Linked DNA regions of Homo sapiens. The protein of the gene in region 1 purifies or fractionates together with the protein of each later gene. This does not show direct contact. Each region holds a gene or a part of one and is shown in the gene's direction. Other genes may lie near its edges.

Region 1 (3,919 bases):
TTAAACAAACAAACAAAACTGGTAAGAATTTGACAGCGGTCACCAGAACAGTACTCTACCAAGCATAAGAAATCCTGGAATTATTCTATCTTGCAGAAGAGGGTGAACATCCTAAAGATTAAATTAAAAGGCACTTCTAAAAAGTATAATTGTGTTTACCCAACTTCCTAGGGAAATGTCTTTGTTAAAAAGCTGCATTTCATTCATTCATATTCCGGATAGTGGGCATTTTCTAATAAAAAGTAAAATCTCAGTAAATGGGCTACAGTTTTGTTTATTCCTAGAAAGGCTCTCTTTTAAAGTGCGGTGTCTGCAACGTTGTTATGACAATAAGTCAAATTCTTATTGATATTCCAAGTATAAAATAATCCGTAGCAATGTTACTAAAATGTGCTCAATTTTGCTCTTCAAATATGAAAGCGTTTCATCTGTGTTTCAGAAACCTAACTCAGCTGTAGACAATTTGGTTTTCCCTTTTAACTTAAACTTGTTTTACTAAGATCATCAACAGATTGTCAGTTTCCCAAGCACCTGACACTGAGGCGCTTAGATGGGAATCCGCGTTAAGGTTTTATTTAGCATCCTTCCTCATCAGAATTTTAGCGTCTTATCAGCCACTGCAATTTTCCCTGACATAAAATATATATGTTCATAGTACAAATGCACGCAAATATTTGTGGCCGAATCTCGGCAACCCGCTGGAAAGGATTAAACGTGCGGTTGCCGTGACTAAACGCATTCATTCACCCTACAAGATTTAGGAAAATGTAACGTTGCAAGGGAAGCAAGGTCTCTGTGTAAACCTCGTAATCGCCACCAAAAGTCGGTAGCTGGGAGCCTTCAAAGCCCGCCAAACACACTGGAAGCATCCACAGCTGTTTTAAATTGGTTTTGGTTTCTGGAAATAGCGCACTCGGTACGGCAGCATCTCTGGCCTCCAGCCGGGGTTAACCCTGACCTGAACGCCCTGTTTAGCTCCCAGCATTTCATGATTCCGCTTCCCTGCTCCGTAAAACCGAAGAAAACCGAGATTTCCGTCACCGAGAAATGCACTTAGCAAGAGGGGGAAATTCGGTGTTTTAAATGTCACATTTTTGTGTTCTCTACCACTATCAAGAAAAGGAAAAAAGATGTGTTTGTGTAGCGGGGACGCAGCTTGACACCCATTTCCTTTGGCTCGCATCGCGGTCGCAGAGCCCAATCGCGGGGAAACGGGCCCCCCAGAAAAACAGGCAACGACCCCCAGCTCTTTGCTACAGGGATCGGGAGAGGACTACCCTGGGGCTGGGCGGGGAGGGGGATGTTGGGAACAGGAATTGGAGATGGAATTTCTGCGCCCGCAGAGCAGGGAGGGGCCCGCGGGGGCGCGGAGAGGAAAAAAAGGCCAGGGGTCAAGCCTGGGGAGAGAGAAGCTGGGCCGGGGAAATGGGGTACAGGGTGTACTGAAGGAGGGGTACGGTGGGGTCCGGGACAGAAAGAGAGGCTGGTGCCCAAAGGGCGCGCTCAGGCGCCCGGAACCCGAGCGGGGGAGGGGGAGGCGGCGGCCTGTTGGCCCCGGGACCTCCACGTCGCGCGCAGGCCACTAACCTGTCAGCAAGAATGTGCCAGTGGTCGCGGGGCTCATCCTGCGTGTCCCCCGACCCTGTCCCGTCCAAGCACAGGGGTCTCCCAGCTCCCACCACCGGGGCAATTGCATTCTTGGCCTGGCTAGGCCGTCCGTCCTCGATTCTCCCCTCCCCTCCCTTTCTTCTTCCCTCCCAGCTTGGCCAGTTCAGCATCAGCATCCCGCACCCCCTCGGTAATCCCGTACTCCCTCTAGCGGCGGGCCACTGCAGCGTGGCCACCGCCCCCACCCCCATCCCCCATCCCCGCACCCCCCTCCACCCCCTAGCCCGCGGAGCACGCTGGGATTTGGCGCCCCCCTCCTCGGTGCAACCTATATAAGGCTCACAGTCTGCGCTCCTGGTACACGCGCTTCAACTTCGGTTGGTGTGTGTCGAAGAAACCTGACTGCGCCCTGAGGAGAACAGCGGAGAAGGTCCACCGAGCCTGGCGAAAGGTCCGCTGAGCGGGCTGTCGTCCGGAGCCACTCCGGGCTGCGGAGCACCCAGTGGAGACCGCGCCTGGCTCAGGTGTGGGACCCCATCCTTCCTGTCTTCGCAGAGGAGTCCTCGCGTGGTGAGTATGCGGTGAGGACGTTTTTTTTTTAAAGATCACGTTCATTCCCCGTGCTTATCGGGAGCTGCGGGAGATGGAGTAGCACCCCAGAATGTCTCCACGCAAAACTTGTCACGCCTTCACTGGCTGTACCCCAAAACAAATGGGGAAACCAAGCCTTAAAGGCTTGGGTTTCCAGGACCAAGTCCAGATACGGGCTGTAGACAGAGATGAGCTGCGGACAGTGATGAGCTGCAGACGGTCAGGAGCTATAGATCGATTTGCAATTTGCTCTTCAAATGCGCTACCAAGTGCCATGCTTTACAAACAGATAAGCGCTTCAAATGCGCTACAAACTGGCGCTTCAGATGCGCTACAAGCACGCTTCACGCGGGCGACAAACTGATGGGAGCTACAACTGGCGCTTCATTGCGCTATAAACTGATGGGCGCTTTATGTGCCACAAACTGACGGATGGGCGCTTCAGTGGCGCTACAATCCAGAACGAGGAGCAGCGATATAGGAGCTGCAGACAGAAAACTGAATTGCGCTTTACATGCGCTGCAAAATCTGAGCTGCAGAAGAGTAGCACTACAAAAAACGCTACAAAAACGATGCGATTAGCCAGCCCGACAACAGCGCTTCATTGCGCTGCGAGGCACATGAACTGCAGAGGTACATGAGCTGCGGAACAATTCACACCTAAGATGCACTACAAAGTGGTAAGAGCTGCAGAGGTACAGGAGCTGCAGACCGTTTGCGCTACAAATAAAGCAGCCGTAGTGGGACATGAGCTGCGGAGTACAATTCCTCTGTTTTCTTGGAGCAGGACCCCACCCTTTCACCTTTTGGAATGGCTCCCACTCTATTTTTCTGCAGGACGGTTCTCGCATGATGGTGCTGGTAGACAAAATGGAGCCCCGGGCAAAAATTAGTGTTTAACATTCTGCCCACACCATTCCCGCTATAGCAGTGGAGTGGAGGGGCACTGATTGGAGTGGAAATGGGAATCTTTTGGTGATGGCAGAGCAGGCTGCCTGCCTACTTGTGCTTGATTGAAGTGGCGGTGTAGTTGTGGTGGCGCGAATCAGCGTCCAGCAACAGTTTGTGGAAACTGTGGGTTTGCTGAGTATGGCGGGGGAATTGGATCTGTGGATTGCTCTTGCTGCATGAAATGAATCTGGCTTTGGTGACTGGTGGGAGGGGTTTGGGAGGGGGGATTCTGGCGGCGGGGGGGGGGGGTGTGCAGATACTCTGCAGCCCTGTAGCAGCCAGTCTCAGGCCTGCCCCGCCCATCCTAGTGTGCCTTCTCTGCGGTGCTTAGCGCCTCCTCCTACAGCGCCTCCTCAGAGCGCGCCTCCCCTGCAGCGCGCCTTCCCAGAGCGCGCCTTCTAGATGCGGCCTCCTCAGGCCCCTCCTCCCAGCTCCTTAGCGCCTGCCTGCCCAGGCCCCACCTCTCTCTGGCCACCTCATTCTGAGGTGAGCTGCTCAGGCCCCGCCTCTTCCAGGCCCGCCTTTTCTGTGGTGAGCTGCCCAGGCCCTGCCTCTCCCGGGCCCACCTACTCTGAGGTGAACTGTCCAGGCCCCGCCTCTCCCGGGGCCGCCCCCTCTGAGGTGAACTGCCCAGGCCCCACCTCTCCTGGGCCCGCCTCCTCTGAGGTGAACTGCCCAGGCCCCGCCTCTCCTGGGCCCGCCTCCTCTGAGGTGAACTGCCCAGACCCCACCTCTCCTGGGCCCGCCTCCTCTGAGGTGAACTGCCCAG
Region 2 (3,919 bases), on another chromosome or scaffold:
AAAAAAAATTGTAAAATTATGGTAAAGACCCCATAGTCAAATTTAAAAAAATAAATGACAAGGAGAAAATTTTACAGCCAATATAAAAGAGAAAAGATTCCTATCCATGTATGAAAAGCTTCTGCAAAAGAATAAGACAAACCGATAGAAATATAGTCAAGGGATATGAATAGAAAATACATAAAAGAAATAATGGCCAGTGAACACGAAATGTGCCTGACATCCCTAATAATCAAAGAAATACAAATTAAAACACAATCATACCAATTTTCATCTAACAGATTGGCAAAAATGTAAAGGATCATGTGTATATTCATTGCAGTGTTGCTTGTAATAGCATACAGCTTGAGTGACCTCCAGTAGAGGTGATGTTTAAATATATTTTGCTGCATTCTTAAAAGGAAATGTAGCATAATGCAGCCATTTGGAGAGAATGAGATAACTATATGCACTCTCTTTGAAAGTTTTGTGACTACTATGTGCCGGGAGTTGCACTGGGCTTTCTTTAAGGTATTTTCAGCAAACCTGTCTTTTAATGATTTATATTGTACCTAATAAGAGATATATGAATGGAAAAACAGTTTTTGCTCTCACATCATGACAATCAACACAAAAGACTTCTGTGACCAAATGTGTGGAGTTTTCTTCCACCAACAAGCAAGCAATCAATTCTGCAGCGGACACCAGCTGGGTATCATCTAATTCAATTCTGACACTGTCTACTTGGAGATAGGGTCAGATCCCTTAGGTTTAGGGCTTAGTCCTGCAAGAGGGACCCCCATTTCTGATGCCAATCCAAGCCCTAAGTTGTTTTACCTGTGCTTCTGACTGACCAGCTACACATGAGGAATCCTATTAATACACACCTTGGGGTGTATTAATTTGCTAGAGGAGCTAACAAAACTGAGGGAAACATGTTTTCCAGTTTATTATAAAGATATTACAGAGACCCTGGGCAACATGGAGAAACCCTGTCTCTACTAAAAATACAAAAAATTAGCCGAGCGTCATGGCTTGCAAGTGTAGTCCCAGCTACTTGGGAGGCTGAGGTGGGAGAATCACCTGAACCTGAGAAGTCTAGGCTGCAGTGAGCCATAATTGTACCATTGTCCTCCAGCCTGGGCAACAGGAGTGAGATCCTGTCTCCAAAAAAAAATACTAGGATACAAATGAAGAGATGCATACTGTGAAGTATGGGAAGGGGCACAGAGCTTCCATGTCCTCCCTGCCTGTGATATCCAGGAAATTCCTCCAGGAACTTCCACATGTTCAGCTATCCAGTAGCTCTTTGTACCCCATCCTCTTGAGCCTTTTATGGAGATTTCAATGGATAGGCATGACTGAAGCATGGACAATCATTTTGGAAATGTGATTGGACAAAAAAGATATGATCTGATACTAACAGACTGAGTGGGGAAACCCAGCAAGGCCTGTCTGCTCAGATTCTTCTTGGCTTCTCTGTTCAGCATTCCTTCCAGGATATAGGGCAAGACCCATTCTGAAACAGGGGTCTTATGACCTACAGCTAGACAAGATAGGTCAGAGAAAGGCAGGGATGATTAGAGTTCTGCTTTGGAGAGAAGGAGCAGGTGAAAGGAGGAGAGGAGGAAGTCAGAAATAGATTCTGTTTTCTGAGGCCTAAAGCACCCTAACATAACAAGACTGTAACAAAGGCTATGGGAGTTATGAGCCAGAAACTGTGGACAAAAACATATATATGTATATGTATATATGTATGTATGGAAATGATCACACGCTCTATCTACTTCATAGCCCTGTTGTGAGGATTACACAAGACAGTGTATAGTATATTAACATAGTGCTTAGCTTATATTAAACAGTTGATACATGTTAGCTTTACTATAAATAAGGAAATACGCTTTTATTATATAAGGATATCTTTGAGCTTCAAATGCTTTAAAACTTTTTTTTTTTAGAGACAGGGTCTTGCTTTGTTGACCAGGCTAGTCTTGAACACCAATTCTCAAGCGATTCTTCAGCCTTAAACTTTTTTTACATAGAGAAAGTTTTAGCAACAAATTAGGATGTGGACCTTGTTTTTTAATGTTAGGAGAATTGATTTTATTCAATATACTATTTACTTATTTATTAATTATTATTATTATTATTTTGAGACAGAGTCTAGCTCTGTCACTCAGGCTGGAGTGCAGTGATGTGATCTCAGGTCACTCAACCTCCACCTCCTAGGTTCAAGCTATTCTGCCTCAGCCTCCTGAGTAACTGGGATTACAGGCACGCGCCACCATGCCCAGCTGATTTTTTGTATTCTTAGTAGAAATGGGGTTTCACCATGTTGGCCAGGCTGGTCTTGAACTCCTGACCGCAAGTGATTCACCCACCTTGGCCTCCCAAAGTGCTGGGATTATAGGTGTGAGCCACTGCCCCTGGCCTTATTCACTATACTATTTAGAAGCAATCTTTGATTATCTTATATTTATGTAACATTTCTGAGCATTAGTGTGTTGAAGGTCAGTGCTTCACTAGGAGGGCTCACAGGACTCAGAATATAGTGTACTTACAGCTATGATTTATTACAGTGAAGGGAAATAAAGCAAAATCAGCAAAGGGAAAAAGCATATTGGGGGAAATCAGGTACAAACTTCTGAGTTCTCTCCCAGTGGAGTTACGTAGGATATGCTTAATTCCTCCAGCAACCAGCTATGACAACATGTTTGAAGTGTTGTCTACCAAGGAAGCTCAACTAGACACTCAGTGATCAGAATTTTTATTGGAGGATGGCCACATAGGCACCCTCTGTATAGGTACTCTCGACTGGCATGTACCAGAATTCTAAGACTCCTGGAAGGAAGGCGGGTATTCAGCATGAACCACATTGTTTTTCATAAACAGTTTTAGGCACAGGGAGCCACTCTTACCAGAGAATGGCAGAAACCCTCCTGAAATCTAAGTTCTAGATGCCAGTCAAAGGCCAACCTTGTAAGCACACCTTTGAAAGTATAGTAGTCTTAGGCCTGTCATGTTAGCTCTTTTTTGCAGTTCTTCTTGTGTGATTAAAGGAAGTTAATTCCTATCCTAGAATTATTGTGCAGATTAGAGAGAGAATGTGAAGCTCCTATCACAGTTCCTGACTCTTAGTGAGTGCACAATAAACAATACCTGCTATAGCTGTTACATGTGAGGTATAGGAATCTTGAGCTCTTTTACACTGGTTAGAAAAACCAGTTTTCTATAAGGAAGAAATGAAAAAATCTACATTCTGCCTCTCAAACAAGGCAAGAAAAGCTGTTTTTATTTATATTGAAATTATATTTCAAACATTATTTAGGTAGTGAACATTTCCTGGCTTTTTGACCTTTATTCTCTGATTCTGTTAAAATATAGGTAATAAGAGAAATGAAGCCAACAGGTACAGACCCAAGGATCTTATCTATAGCTGCTGAAGTTGCAAAAAGCCCTGAGCAGAATGTCCCTGTTATACTGTTGAAGTTAAAAGGTAAGAAAATCTTTTTGTGATTAGATAGCATTTTAAGTGAAAAATGGTTCCATCGTTGGTACAATTTTAACATTTCTTTTAAATTTGTTCAGAGAGGTCTTAACACTATAATAGAACAGTAATTTTTCCTTCTAATATATTTTTAGTGATTATTCAACATATAAAAATACAAATAGCTCCTGGATGTATTAAGCAAAAATAAATATATCTTATTTCCTTTTGCCTTAGAAATAATAAACATCACACCTTTAGGAAGCTCAGAGTTGAAGAAAATCAAACAAGATATATATTGTTATGATCTCATTCAATATTGCCTCTTGGTCCTCAGTCAAGATTATTCTCGAATCCAGGGTGGTTGGACTACAATTTCCCAGCTTACACAGATATTAAGGTAAAATAAAGCAGTAAGTCAGCTGTTCTTGAGGGATGTAGTAGTTGATTCTG

The links.
Region 2: the proteins of PEG10 (region 1) and IQCB1 purify together in Homo sapiens (affinity purification with mass spectrometry; 3 studies listed by BioGRID and IntAct, with this or other methods). This does not show direct contact.

What each region holds. Positions count from the first base shown.
Region 1 is NC_000007.14:94,654,403-94,658,321, forward strand, and holds the start of PEG10 (retrotransposon-derived protein PEG10), read left to right. Parts: upstream 1-1,967; 5' UTR 1,968-2,184; coding exon 2,185-2,189; intron 2,190-3,919. Other genes in the region: SGCE (epsilon-sarcoglycan isoform 5 precursor), read right to left, coding at 1,588-1,696.
Region 2 is NC_000003.12:121,828,417-121,832,335, reverse strand, and holds part of IQCB1 (IQ calmodulin-binding motif-containing protein 1), read left to right. Parts: intron 1-3,363; 5' UTR 3,364-3,375; coding exon 3,376-3,475; intron 3,476-3,703; coding exon 3,704-3,866; intron 3,867-3,919. UniProt on the Homo sapiens protein: Involved in ciliogenesis. The function in an early step in cilia formation depends on its association with CEP290/NPHP6.